Linked DNA regions of Homo sapiens. Each later gene encodes a partner of the first gene's protein in a complex. Each region holds a gene or a part of one and is shown on either strand. Other genes may lie near its edges.

Region 1 (6,828 bases):
TTTACAAACGAGGAAAGGAGGTTACATGCACTGTCCAGCATCTGCTTCCCTCATACCCCACGTCCAGTCCATTTCTGAGCCCCATCAACTCAGTTTCAAAACACACAGAAGTCACCTCCCTCCCTGCTCCAGGCCCCACCGTCACGTGCCTGGATTGGTACTCACTACAGTCTGTTCCCACAGAGGCCAGAGGGATCCTATGAAAGCCACAGCCAGATCCTTGTCCCTCCCCTGCTCAGGATCCTCCTGGGGCTCCCAGCTAAGGGAGGCTTGTGCCTCAGGGCCTTTGCACCTACTGCCCCTCTGCCTGGAACGCACTTCCTCCAGCACTTCCTGTCGCTCAGGAGTAATCTCCTCAGAGAAGCCTCCCAAGGCCACCCTGGCTGCAGCAGCCGCCCTGGCCACACCTCTCACCCCCTCGCCCTACTTTATTTGATCCACAGCACTGGCTACCATCCCAACTACAGTCTATTTTACTTTTTTGTTTTGGCTTTTCACTGTCTCCTGCACAACTATATCAGCCACCTGAGTTAACAGGTATTTGTCCTTTTTGGTAACTACTGTTGTCCCCAGCACCTTGGAGACCTCACACACAGTGGGGCTCAGTATTAACAGAGAAGGCACATTCCACAGGCGATGTGTGGGCTGGACTGGGATTTGAACCCAAGACTCAGAGTCCAAAGTCCCTGCTCACTCCTGACCTGTCTCCCACCCCCTAAGCTCAGGAATCAGGGGCCTATTCCCTAGCGATCACCTATTACCCACTTAGGTGACTAAGTCCCTTCCCCAAGACCACCCCACTTTCCACCACTGCTGCCCACGCTTCATCCTCAGCGGAGGGCCCTTACTTTCCGCCACCCCAAGGCTAGCCAGAGTGGGCTGAGCTTCACCCCCATCTGTCTCCAGCCCCCACTGCACACCCCAATTCACTGGCTGAAGAAATGACATTTAGGCCAGGCATGGCAGCTCATGTCTGTAATCCTAGCACTTTGGGAAGCCAACATGGATGGATAGATAGCTTGAACCCAGGAGTTCGAGACCAGCCTGGGCAACATGGTGAAACCCCATCTCTACAAAAAATACAAAAACTAGCCGGGCATGGTGACACGAGCCTGTAGTCCCAGCTTCAGGAGGCTGAGATGGGAGGATCACCTGAGCCAGGGAGTTGTGAGGCTGCAGTGGACTGTGATTGTGCCACTGCACTCCAGCCTGGGTGAGAGTGAGACCCCATTTCAAAAAAAAAAAAGTGACATTTAGCCCTGTGCCTGTTGCTGCCTTTCCCTGAAGGGCCATTCTCCTCTCACCTCACCCTCACAGCCTCCCCGGCACAGAAAATAGGTGCCATCTGGGGACCACGGAGCACCAGCTTCCCTTCTGGGCCCCTCTCAGGTTCCTAGCAGGTTCTCAGCCACCGTGTGAGGGTCCTGGCAGCTCTCATCGGCAATCACTGCAGACCTAGGCAGGGAAACCCTGAGACATCCCAGTGCCTCCACTACTCCAGGTCCAGCCGTCCCAGAGCCTCCTCCAAGACAAGTGTCTCCTCAAGGCAGCCCAGGGCGCCTGGCACAACACTGGCCCAGGACCACAGCAGCCCCTTGGAAAAATCCCTGCCCCTCAAGGCTAAAATCCAACCCCACTGACACAAGAACTCAAGAAAGATATTGGTGCAGCTCACTCTGACTCCGGGCAAGCCGTCACCCCTCTCAGAACCTCAATTTTCTCACCTGTATTTTGAAGATAACTCTAATTTCGAAGAGCACTGAGAGGCTCTGCCATCAGTGGGCTCTGGGGTAAGAATGAGGACAAAACCAACGTCCCCAGAGCAGTGAGCCAGGAGTGGGCTGAGGCCCTGCTCTAACATCAGTGCAGAGGGAGGCGGGGGCTGAGGCGGCCCCTTTCCCTGGCCCCTAGTGTCCCACTCCGGGAAAGGAAGGAAAAGCCTCCACCTCACTCCACCTTGGTGCAGAAAGGCAGGACAGCTGGCCCATGTGGCAGAGGGAGCCAGGGCCCACAGTATGGAGAAAAGTAGCCTCATTTCACAGCTAGGGAAACTGAGGCCCCACGATGCGAAGTGCAGTGTAGTACACAGCCAGGCATGTCCCCTGGACTCGGAGCCCCGGGCAGGGCAGAGCAGGGCAAGGCAGAGCCTGGAGCAGTGGGGGAAGGAAGGAGAGGCTCCTTGAAGGGATTTCCCAGCCGCACCCCCCACAGCTGCCTCGCCCCCACTAACTCTCTCACCCTCCTGGGTGCCAAAGCACAAAACAAACCGGGCCCCAGGGCTGTCCCAAGGGCCGAGCAGGGACGCAATGGAGCCCCTAAGAAAAAGGATAAAGAGACAGAAGTGAGCGACAGAGGTCGAGAGACTCCACAGAGACAGAGAGAGAGACACGCAGGGAGAGACAGGCAAAGAAGACTCAGAGACGCACAGGCAGCAAGAGAAATGAGAGGCAGAGAGATAAAGGGAGACAGGCAGAGATAGGAAGGGGCAGAGGCAGAGACACCCCCACCACACACACAGGCACAACTGGGGCGAGACAGCCGGTCAGCGGCGGAGAAAGAGGGACAGAGACCCAGAGACAGGCAAAGAGTCTCAGAGACAGACCCCCACACACACAGACTGGCAGAGCCAGGGCCAGAGCGGCCCGCAGAGACTCGGGGAGCAGACACGGAAAGTCGGCCGGAGACCCAGACCCACCCAGAGTCCGAGCCAGAGCGGGGCCCGCCGAGGGGGTGCGCGGCCCGGCCCGGCCCCGCCCCGCGCCGCGCTGCATGCCAGCCCCCGCCCCCCGGGCCCGACGTGGCTCCGACCCCGGGCCCCCAGCCCAGGCCCCCGTCCCGCCCCCTCCCGCCCGAGCCCGGGCCCGGGCCGCCGCCGCACCTTGTTGAAGGCGAAAAGCTCCTGCTTGAGCTTCTCGCGCTGCGGGTCGGCGCCCTGCCGCCGGAACCGAAACTTCATCATCTTGCGCCCGGCTGCAGGCGCCTCGCCCGCCGCCGCCGCCCGCAGGATGCGCCGCGCGGCCCCGCGGGTCCTAAGGCGCGGGCGGGGCGCCAGGCGGCCCGGGCGCGGGCGCGCGGGGCCGGGCCTGCACGGGGGTGGGCGCCGGGCGCGACGGACGCGCCGCCCGACCAGTGAGCGAGCCCGCCGTGCCGCCCGCCCCGCCCCTGTTGGCCAGACAATGGTGAACTGGGCCCCCGGGCTCGGCCGGGCTCGCGAAGGGACGCCCGCCTAGCATGCGCCGCGGCGCGGGGCCTGCCGGGACTTGTAGTCCATGAGCCGGGGCTCCAGCGCGGGCGGCTGGGGAAGCGCTTTGGAGGGGGATTGGCGCACGTTCCCGGGCTTGGAGGAGACTTTTTCCTCCTCCCAGAGAGCGAGCGACGTGCCCACTCATGTAATGGGGCAGCCCTGTTCCGAAAGCCAAGACAGCTCTGACTGGAACAACTCCCTGGCCCCTCTGCGCCTCAGTTTCCCCATCTACACCATTGGTCAAGTGATTGCCAAGTTTATATTTTACCAATTTCACAGAACTCCATTTCGTCTGTTCCCCGCTCTGTCAGAGCACCTCCCACCGCCGTGCTTTTGCCTTGGCTTTGTAGTCAGGAATTCTTTCCTCACCCCCAGCCCCTGGGGAACTCCTACACATCTTTCAGGACCCAACGCAAAAGGCTCTGTGTCACAGCACAGGGGATTCTTTCTTAGCCAAAGAAAGAGACGGGATCCCCAGGAGGTGGCATTTGGGACTGTTCTGGGGTTGGATTGGAGCTTTACGGAGATGGGGGAAGGACCTCCCCCCGCAGAGAACAGCGTCTGAACAAAGCTTAGCCCTGCCCCTACTCTCAGGGGCCGTCTGCCTGTCCCCACCCACCTCCCAGGCCTTTTCTCATCTGGACAATGGCCTCGAGGCTGAACCTTTCCTTCCAGGCTGAGGATAGGCCGCCTGGCTCAGGGCTGGGGCTGCGGGAGGTCCTAGAAGCTTAGGTGGGGCAGGTAGGACAGGCCCCAACCCCACCAGCTGTGTCCAGGGAGCAGGAGCTGACCTCTGAGCCCGAGGCGGCTGCCAAGCCTTGGGGCCTGGCTGTCCCCCTCCACCCACGCCAGGCCGGCGGTGTTCAGCCCTTCCCCGTATTTGGGGCTGGATCCGGAAGAGGGCCCAGGAGTGAGTGAGGAGGTGAGAGGAGGGAGAATGACGACAGTAAAGCCCCTAAGTGTCTACTGCGGGGCAGGCGCTGTTCAAAGCCCTTTCCTGGTTTCAGCTGACTTAGTGCTGTCAGTAGCTCTACGAGGGAGCCAACAATATTACCCATCCCAAATGAGGAAGCTGAGACCATCAGCCAAAGGCTGTTAGTTGTTGGCAGAGCTGCTGGACTGAGGAGGATGAGACCCCTTTGGCCACTGGCCACGCCACACCAGCACAGGCAGCAGGGACAGCTCAGAGGTCTGGGTTCTGGTCCCTGCCCTGCCTCACACAGGAAGTGTTAAGAAGTTGCTGGCTGGGCGCGGTGGCTCATGCCTGTAGTCCTAGCACTTTGGGAGGCCTTGGAGGGAGGATCTCTTGACCCCAGGAGTTTGAGACCTGACTGAGCAGTAGGGTGAGATCTCATCTCTACAGAAAAAAAATAAATAAATATTTTTTTAATTAGCTGGGCATGGTGGCCCAGCTGTAAATTCCAGCTACTCAGGAGGTTGAGGCAGGAGGATGGCTTGAGCCCAGGAGGTTGAGGCTGCTGTGAGCTGTGATCGTGCCACTGCACTCCAGCCTGGGCAACAGAGCAAGACCATCTCGAAAAAAAGGCCAGGAGCAGTGGCTCACACCTGTAATCCCAGCGCTTTGGGAGGCTGAGGCGGGCAAATCACTTGAGGTCAGGAGTTTGGGAAAAACCCAGTCTCTACTAAAAATACAAAAAATAGCCGGGCATGGTGGCAGGTGCCTGTAGTCCCAGCTACTTAGGAGGCTGAGGCAGGAGAATCGCTTGAACCCAGGAGGTGGAGCTTTCAGTGAGCCGAGATCATTTGCTCTCCAGCCTGGGCAACAAGCGTGATAAATGAAAAAAACAAACAAACAAACAAAAAAAAAACGTTGATTCACATTCCCACTTTACCATTTGGAAGCTATGTGACCTGGAACAAGTTACCTCAAATTCTCTGTGCCTCAGTTTCCTCATCAGTAAAAATGGTGATAATATTAGTATTTACCTCAAAGGGTTGTTGTGGAGATTAAATGTGTCAGGGTAATATGAACCAGAGCAACTCCATCTTGAATAGGAGGTGGGTAAAATGAGGCTGAGACCTACTGGGCTGCATTCCCAGATGGTTAAGGCATTCTAAGTCACAGGATGAGCTAGGAGGGGGTCGGCACAAAATACAGGTCATAAAGACGTTGCTGATAGAACAGATTGCAGTAAAGAAGCTGGCCAAAACCCACCAAAACCAAGATGGCCACGAGAATGACCTCTGGACATCCTCACTGCTACACTCCCATTAGCGCCATGACAGTTTACAAATGTCATGGCAACGTCATGAAGTTACTCTATATGGTCTAAAAAGGGGAGATATGAATAATCCACGTTTAGCATATCATCAGGAAATGACCACAAAAATAGGCAACTTGGCCGGGCACGGTGGCTCACGCCTGTAATCCTGGCACTCTGGGAAGCCGAGGTAGGTGGATCACCTGAGGTCAGGAGTTTGAGACCAGCCTGACCAACATGGAGGAACCCCATCTCTACTAAAAATACCAAATTAGCCGGGCATGGTGGCACATGCCTGTAATCCCAGCTACTCGGGAGGCTGAGGCAGGAAAATTGCTTGAACCCGGCGGGCGGAGGTTTCAGTGAGCCGAGATTGCACCACTGCACTCCAGCCTAGGCAACAAGAGTGAAAATCCATCTCAAAAAAACAAAGGACAACTCTGCCTATGGAGTAGCCTTTTTTTCCTTTTTCTTTTCTTTTTTCTTTTTTTTTTTTTGAGATGGAGTCTTGCTGTGTTACCCAGATTGCAGTACAGTAGCACTATCTTGGCTCACTGCAGCCTCTGCCTCCCAGGTTCAAGTGATTCTCCTGCCTCAGCCTCCCAAGTAGCTCGGACTATAGGCATGCGCCACCACACTCAGCTAATTTTTGTATTTTTAGTAGAGACCGGGTTTCACCATGTTGACCAGGCTGGTCTTGAACTCCTGACCTCAGATGATCCGCCTGCCTTGGCCTCCCAAAGTGCTGGGATTACAGGCATGAGCCGTTGCACCCGACACCCAATCTCCATTTTTCTTTTTCTTTTTCTTTTTTTTGAGACAGAGAGACAGAGTTTCACTCGGTCGCCCAGGCTGGAGTGCAGTGGTACAATCTCAGCTCACTGCAACCTTTGCCTCCCAGGTTCAAGCGATTCTCCTGCCTCAGCCTCCTGAGTAGCTGGGACTATAGGTCTGTGCCACCATGCCCAGCTAATTTTTTGTATTTTTAGCAGAGACGGGTTTTCACCGTGTTAACCAGGATGGTCTCGATCTCCTGACCTCGTGATCTGCCTGCCTTGGCCTCCCAAAGTGCTGGGATTACAGGTGTGAGCCACCGCACCCAGCCAGCAGTCCCCATTTTTCAATGGGACTTGGTTATTAGGCAGTAAGCAGCCATGCCTTTCCCAACCCCTATCTCACAGTTTTTTGGGGAGCAGGGCAACAGAACTGAGTCGAGACCACAGCTAACCATAGCTCACCGTCCTATGATGGGGCATGCACTGGGGCTGTGGGAGCCCAGAAGAGGCATCTGGCCCAGGGTCAGTGTCCTGCTGGGAGAGGACAGTGCACATGGGTTGTAATGGGTAAGGAGTGTACCTAGTG
Region 2 (6,977 bases), on another chromosome or scaffold:
TGCTGCCTGCTGGGGCAGACTCACTGAGAGCCCAGAGCCACCGTGCTGAGCTGGACCGGAAGCTGGTGCAGGTAGAGGAGGCCATCAAGATCTTTTCTCGGCCCAAAGTCTTCGTGAAGATGGACGACTGAGCCCCTTTGGGGGACAGTGGCAAGGAGCTCCATGCTGAGGATCGCCACATGGCTGCAAAGGACAGGGTTGGACCCAATCCCAGAGCAGAGGTCTGAAGACAGGAGCAGGGGGGTGGCCAGTGTCCCTAGAGCACTCTTCCCAGTCACCAGTGGCTGCAGAAGGGCCACCCTAGCCTTTTAACTGCTTTGTCAAAATTAAACATTTTGTACACAGGATTTGTTTCCATAAGAGCTTTTCTTACCCTAAAAATGCCAAGCCTGGTGGCCCTCCTGCTGCTTGATTGCAGGAAGTTCTCCCCAATGTCACTCCTGCCTTAGTCCAGAGCAGAAGGCAAGCTGGTGAGACCAGGGAGGAGGCTGGAACTGGGACACACAAGGACCATGACTGTATTTGTAGAAAACCTTTAATGTTCCCCAGGCTGAGGGAGCCCTGTGAGCCAGCTAAAAACCCCCACTGTGAAGTCCCTGCCATGTCCCAGCAGTGTGGAGTGGCATGGGGCTTCATCCTGACTGTCAGAGGCTGAAGCCACTACCATCTCCTCGAATGCGACTCCCCCAGCCAGAACTGGCCTGCTCCTGGTCATCCAGGGAGGGCAGAGAGCTGCGGGTACCAGGATGTCGGCAGCCAGGGTGCAGGTCCCAGCACGGGGGCCCCTGAGACAGCCCATTGGAACTGGGAGGCTGGCGGTTCTCAATGACCAGGTCACTGCTGTCATCGTCACTATCAGGCTCAGCAGGCCCAGGCCCTGCAGAGGGAGGACCTGTCAAACGCCCAGATGCCCCTCGCACCACGTTATTGCGCTGGTTGGCGGGCTTGACAGTGACAATGAGGTTATGGCTGTTGGCAACCATCATGTCCGTCACTTGGTCCAAGGTCTTCCCGGCTACTTCAATGCCATTGACCTCGAGGATCTCATCACTGACCGCCAGCAGCCCTGTACTCTCAGCCAGACCCCCACGTACCAGGCGGGAGATGAAGATTCCTGGAACCCGCTCCAGGCCCTGGGGAGCCACACGCACGCTCATGCCATCTCGGATGTAGAAGCCCAGGGGGCGGTCTGAACCATGCTTGTGCAGCCGCACCCGTCGGTGGGTCTCAGGCAGTAGGTCCACGTCTATGACTGAGGAAACCTGGCGGAAATCTTGGGGCAGGCTGATTAGCAAGGGTGGCCGGGTGCGCAGGGGTGCCACTGGCCGCAGCAAGAGCCCTTTCTTGCGCCGCTGCAGAGAGTTGGAGGCAAAAGCCAGGCCGCTGGAGTCAGCTTCTGCTGCAGAAGAGGGGGGATGTTGAGATCAGAGACCTGCTCCCCGACTTGGGCTGTTTACAGGGGGCACTGTAGCTATTTCCTACCACTTAGAGGTCAAGCCAAGGGCAGGGACTGCAGAGGGTGACGCTTGGGTACCCTGGGCATGGACTAACCCTTGTAGACCTGCCCCACAGACACCTTACCCCACAGAGGCTGCCCACTGTACCCCTCCTCACCCCGCTTCTGCACCAGTAGGCGCAGTGGCGGGGGCCCGCTGGCCAGGGCCCGGTGCAGGCTGTCGTCGTTGGTGAGGGGCAGCAGGTCGCCATGAGCATCCGTATAGCCAAGTAGCACGTCCAGGCCCGGGATCTGGTGCACCGCCCGCAGCAACCGCGAGAACTCCTGGAAGCCGCTCACCGAAGCGCGAGGCAGCGCGAAGCGTCGGAACTCGGCGTCAAACTGGAAGTCGGGGTTGGGGGAGAGGAGGAGTCAGGACAGCCTGCGCCCCTTTCTCACCGCAGGCTGGCAGGAATGGGAAAGATGCGGCTGCCGCTTTTGCGGCAGCCTTAAGCCCAGACCTCAGCTCCAGTACCAGGGACGCTGTCCAAGGTCTTCTTACCGCCCTCCAGGTACTCAGGCCACAGAGAGCTGGAGACCAGCAGTGGAGGAAGGAAGACGGATGGGGGAAGGCGAGCAGAAAAGCAGAATGGGACTTGGAGGATAGAGGGAAGAGGTGGCGGGGACCAAGGAGCTGGGAAGGGGAGAAAGAGGGAATTGGGAGCGCCTAGGGCCGAGGCCGGAGGAGCCCTTACTTTGCTCTTCACCTCGACGATGCTATCGGGACTGCGCGCCGGAGTCCTCTGCGGCCGGGCCATGGCGGGGCCGGGCGGGCCGGGGACGGTGCCCCAGGCGGCCCGCCGAGGCGCAGGTGCACAGCCCGGCCGGCCCGCCCGCGCCGCCCCGCCCCTGGCGGTAGCACACGCCCCGCCTTCCCATCCGGAGCGTGACGTCAAGGGGGCAGCGACGCAGAGTGGAACGCGGAGTCCACGTTTCCTAGGAAACGGAGCCGTGGATGGAGAGGAGCCGTCCTCCGCTCTTGCGTCATCACGCTGAGGTCCGCGCGCCCCCGGAGTCTGGGGAGCAGGGCTCCGCCAATCCGAGGGGAGGGCGAAGGAAGTACCATTTATTTAGCGCTGTGTGTGTGCTCTTATTTCCACTGGCCTTACAAGACCGTGCACTGTGTAGATGAGGAAACTGAGTCATAATAAATATGTGCTGAACCGTTCGGGGGTCACACGGTGCTGAAATGGTTTCGAGTCAACTCGCTCGGACGGCACTCGGCCTCAGCCTCCGGCCCTGGAACCCTCTCCAGGGACGGGACCAGCCCTTGTTCTGTTCCCTACCGGTACCACAGGAATCTTGACGAACGGCCCAAATGCCTGGCCGCTGTCAGAGTGACGCCGCGATGAGAGTAAACGGGCCAGCATCCCGTGCACCAGCGGGGTGGACCAGCGGGAGTCTGCACACAGGCCCCCGAGCAGGACGCCCTCGTGCGCAGGCGCGGGGTGTACGTGGGCGGGGCCTCCTCCTCCGGCCCCGCCCAGCGAAGGAGCTTCCTCTTCCGAGGAAAGGCGGGGCCTGGGCGCCCGCGGGAAACCCGGGCCCGTTGCATCCGCTGGGTGTAGCCGTGGGGATGGCAGGTTCGGGGAGGCTGGTCCTACGGCCCTGGATTCGGGAGCTGATTCTGGGGTCAGAGACACCCTCCAGTCCACGAGCCGGGCAGCTGCTTGAGGTGAGCCCCCATTCAGGGCCCGGAGACCGAGGCGGAGGCCCGGGGTGGTGGGATTGACGCCGCTCGCCGCCGTCAGGTACTACAGGACGCCGAGGCCGCGGTCGCGGGCCCATCCCACGCCCCTGATACGTCCGACGTCGGGGCCACGCTGCTTGTGTCTGACGGGACCCACAGTGTCCGATGCCTGGTGACGCGGGAGGCCCTGGACACCTCGGACTGGTGAGAGGCCCCGCGCGGCTCTGGAGGTCGGAGTCCGGCAGGAGAGCGCGAGGTGGGCGGGCCTTGTGTTCAGGTGGGCCCGGCAGTGAGGATCCTGCTTGTTGCAGGGAGGAGAAGGAGTTCGGCTTCCGCGGGACAGAGGGCCGGCTGCTGCTGCTGCAGGACTGCGGGGTTCATGTCCAGGTCGCTGAGGGCGGCGCGGTGAGTGGTGAGACTGCCTTGGGCGGGTTACCGGGCATGACTCTTCGTGACGATTCTGAGACCCCCCCTTCCCCCCGAACTCCTCCAGCCCGCAGAGTTCTATCTCCAGGTGGACCGCTTCAGCCTGCTGCCCACGGAGCAGCCCCGGCTACGGGTGCCTGGTTGGTAAGTGATGCCTCCGCCCTCCAGCAGCTCTCCCCACCCCAGCCTGGCCGGCGCTGGCAGACGCCTATGGGGTAGGAGGGCTTGGGCCCCCATTAACTACCCTTCTCTTTTTCTTAGCAACCAAGACTTAGATGTTCAGAAAAAGCTCTATGACTGCCTTGAGTGAGTCTGGGGTTGGGCTCGGGGGCCACGTGTTGTTTGGTGAGGGGATGGTGTATCTAGGTAGACAGGCCTCAGCATGGTTCCTGAGTCCTGGCCACTCTCTTCCTGTAGGGAGCACCTTTCAGAGTCCACCTCGTCCAATGCAGGTACTGTAGAGCTTGACCAGTGATCCTAACACGCTGTGCAGTGATCTCTCCAGCCTTAACCTTATGCTTCCTCAATAAGCTGTCTTCCCCCTCACCCTCCTGGTCCTCCCCTTTAAGCCTTGACTCATCCCATGGTCCCCTGTCCCCAGGCCTATCACTGTCCCAGCTTCTGGATGAAATGCGGGAGGACCAGGAGCATCAGGGGGCACTCGTGTGCCTGGCTGAAAGCTGCCTGACACTGGAGGGCCCTTGCACAGCACCCCCTGTCACCCACTGGGCTGCCTCACGATGCAAGGCCACGGTCAGTCTGGGGATTTGCTTGGGAGATGTCAGGGTGAGGAGTTGGGCAAGGGTCATATCCCACAGGACATGAGAGTAAACGGGCCTGTCCTACAGAGTTCATGTCCCACAGGGAGAAGCTGTGTACACTGTCCCCAGCTCAATGCTGTGCATCTCTGAGAATGACCAGCTAATTCTGAGCTCTCTAGGCCCCTGTCAGAGGACACAGGGTAAGGGGGACTGGAGAGGTTGGGGGGATACCTGGGGCCCAGGTCCACAGTGCTGATAAGACTTCCTGAACCCCCCAGGCCCTGAGCTGCCCCCACCAGACCCGGCTCTGCAGGACCTATCTCTGACCCTCATAGCCTCTCCTCCTTCCTCACCCAGTTCCTCAGGTGAGGTGATGCACAGGTCACAGGCACTCACTGCCGCCTGTCAGTCAGGTTCCCGGGCTGCGCAGGATGCTGTGAAAGGTGCACGGTGGGTGGGGGATGAACACGGTCCCTGCAGTCCTGTCTGAGCTCGCAGGCCACTCAGCTGCCCTGAGCGGAGAGGGCTGTGCCTACAATAAGTCCCCTCCTCCTCAGGAACCCCGGCCTTACCCGGCCACATGTCATCCGAGGAAAGTGGTACCAGCATCAGCCTTCTGCCTGCCCTGTCCTTGGCTGCTCCAGACCCAGGGCAGAGAAGCAGCTCCCAGCCCTCACCAGCCATCTGCTCAGCCCCTGCCACCCTGACCCCCAGGTCCCCACACGCCAGCCGTACCCCCAGCTCCCCACTCCAGAGCTGCACTCCCAGTCTCTCACCCCGTAGCCATGTCCCCAGTCCACACCAGGCTCTTGTGACCAGGCCCCAGAAACCTAGCCTGGAGTTCAAGGAGTTTGTAGGGTTGCCCTGCAAGAATCGGCCGCCTTTTCCCAGGACCGGAGCTACCAGGGGAGCCCAGGAGCCCTGCTCTGTCTGGGTGAGCATAGCCCCTCTGCAGCTGGAGGGTAGAACAAGGAAGGCCTGAGGTAGAGCTGGGAGGGAGCATGGGTAGCCTTGGATGGGGTTGGGGTCCTTGTTAGCTCTTCCCCAGACACCATACCCCTTTCAGGAACCCCCAAAGAGGCATCGTGATGGTTCTGCCTTCCAGTATGAGTATGAGCCACCCTGCACGTCCCTCTGTGCTCGGGTCCAAGCTGTCAGGTGAGTGCCTGGGTCTGCCCCAACTCTTGGTCACTAGTCCCAGGCTCCATTGACCTGCAGCGGTGGTTTCTTTCCAGGCTTCCTCCCCAGCTCATGGCCTGGGCCTTGCACTTTCTGATGGATGCACAGCCAGGGTCTGAGCCAACTCCGATGTGAGACGTCACGCAGGACAGATACCGCTCCACACTCTGCTTCCTTTGAGTTTTTTAATAAAATAATCTCATGCGGCAGGAGAGGAGAGGATCAGGGATTGGGGCCGCCGCCTCTTTGGTCTGTGGCTGGGGAGGGTGGGCTCCGCTCAGGGCTGGAGGGCTCTGTGGGCTGTGGGGGCAGAGGCTCGGTTCCAAGGCCAGATCCTGTGAGGGGAGGGAGGGAGAGAGAGGAAGGGTCAGGGCTGGGCTAAGCAGTCCTGCCACCCTCCCAGCTGGCCTGGACCCCCTCTTACCTAGGCTTGGGGATGGAGGTGCCTCGAGTTTTGGCCTGCGTTTGAGGACGGGGGAGCGCTGCAGCCTCAGGGGCCGTTCTAAGGGACACAGAAAGGCTTGGGGTGGGTTGCTAAGGCTTGGGGTCTGTCCATCCCCTGCCCCTCTCTTCCACCTCCAGTGCACATAAGCATGCACTCACACACACTGCTGCCTTCAGAGCATCCCCCGTCCCTGCGTCCTCACCCCTGGCAGAGGCTGCTCTTCGGGAAGTGGAGCCAGTGCTAGTTGGAAGGGCTTGCTGTCAAACCCTTGCACCTGGTCTTCTGGCTCCCTGATTTCTTGAGACCTCACACACTGGTGGCTCCCTCCAAGGACCAAAGCTATGAAGGGAGCCCCAGAAGCCCACCCTCCCACATCTCCTGCATTCAAGCACACGTGGAGGTGTCTCCCCTCACCAGCAGGGGCCTGGAGCTGGTCCTCATGCACAGACACTGCTCGCCGCCCTGCCGAGAGAGGCCTCGGCCTCAGCTGGCCATCTGAGGGAGGCCAGGGAATCAGGGGTATTCCAACAGCTGCCCCCACTCCAGCCCTTGCCTCCCACCCTCAGGGTCCTTAGAGGAGCTGAGTTCCCAGCAGGAACTCCTCCAGCCCCGAGGCCAGGATTGGGGTGGGGAATCAGGTGCCTGCCTACCTTCATTTCTGGGGCCCAAGCAAGGGTCCTCTGGGAGGCCCAGGCTGTCTGGGGAGGGGCTGGTTCTGCAGGGACTTGGGCTTTGACCAGGGGAGGGAGGGCCTGGACCATCCTGTTGGCCCCAACCACGGCTCCTGAGCTCCGCATTCAACTGCTGCCCCAGTGTCTTCCAGGTGGCAGACTCAGGCCCCTGGCTCCCTGGGCCAGGTCTGCAGGAAGGGTCTGTAGGGAGAAAGGTGTCAGCCAAGACCTGGTCAGGCATTGGCGATAGGTCTGAACAACAGTCTGACCCAACTCCTGCCTGTCCCTGCTCCCACTACCAACACACACA

Evidence for each region. The genes of interacting proteins can lie anywhere in the genome.
Region 2: the proteins of LLGL1 (region 1) and PARD6A are in contact, whole or in part, in a cryo-EM structure (PDB 8R3Y), measured with the Homo sapiens proteins. Residues at the interface, in NP_004131.4 of Homo sapiens: Lys657, Leu660, Arg665, Thr704, Pro705, Val706, Gln707, Arg708, Arg709, Ile710, Glu711, Pro712, Arg713, Met785, His786, Glu831, Thr850, Ala851, His852, Glu853, Gly854, Cys855, Arg856, Leu884, Lys906; in NP_058644.1 of Homo sapiens: His163, Leu169, Phe171, Tyr172, Ile173, Arg174, Asp175, Ser195, Arg196, Ile221, Lys226, Thr227, Leu228, Asp229, Gln230, Thr232, Asp233, Met234, Met235, Val236, Ala237, Ser239, His240.

The regions. Positions count from the first base shown.
Region 1 is NC_000017.11:18,221,814-18,228,641, reverse strand, and holds the start of LLGL1 (lethal(2) giant larvae protein homolog 1), read right to left. Parts: upstream 3,008-6,828; 5' UTR 2,960-3,007; coding exon 2,879-2,959; intron 1-2,878. UniProt on the Homo sapiens protein: Cortical cytoskeleton protein found in a complex involved in maintaining cell polarity and epithelial integrity. Involved in the regulation of mitotic spindle orientation, proliferation, differentiation and tissue organization of neuroepithelial cells.
Region 2 is NC_000016.10:67,656,315-67,663,291, reverse strand, and holds PARD6A (partitioning defective 6 homolog alpha), read right to left. Parts: upstream 2,333-6,977; 5' UTR 2,254-2,332; coding exon 2,191-2,253; intron 1,838-2,190; coding exon 1,615-1,837; coding exon of another isoform or gene 1,582-1,614; intron 1,400-1,581; coding exon of another isoform or gene 1,397-1,399; coding exon 645-1,396; 3' UTR 518-644; downstream 1-517. Other genes in the region: ENKD1 (enkurin domain-containing protein 1), read left to right, coding at 1-131; ACD (adrenocortical dysplasia protein homolog), read left to right, coding at 3,072-3,170, 3,247-3,389, 3,497-3,590, 3,679-3,755, 3,873-3,917, 4,029-4,063, 4,213-4,364, 4,476-4,572 and 4 more; CARMIL2 (capping protein, Arp2/3 and myosin-I linker protein 2), read right to left, coding at 5,774-5,886, 5,976-6,053, 6,411-6,491, 6,647-6,868. UniProt on the Homo sapiens protein: Adapter protein involved in asymmetrical cell division and cell polarization processes. Probably involved in the formation of epithelial tight junctions.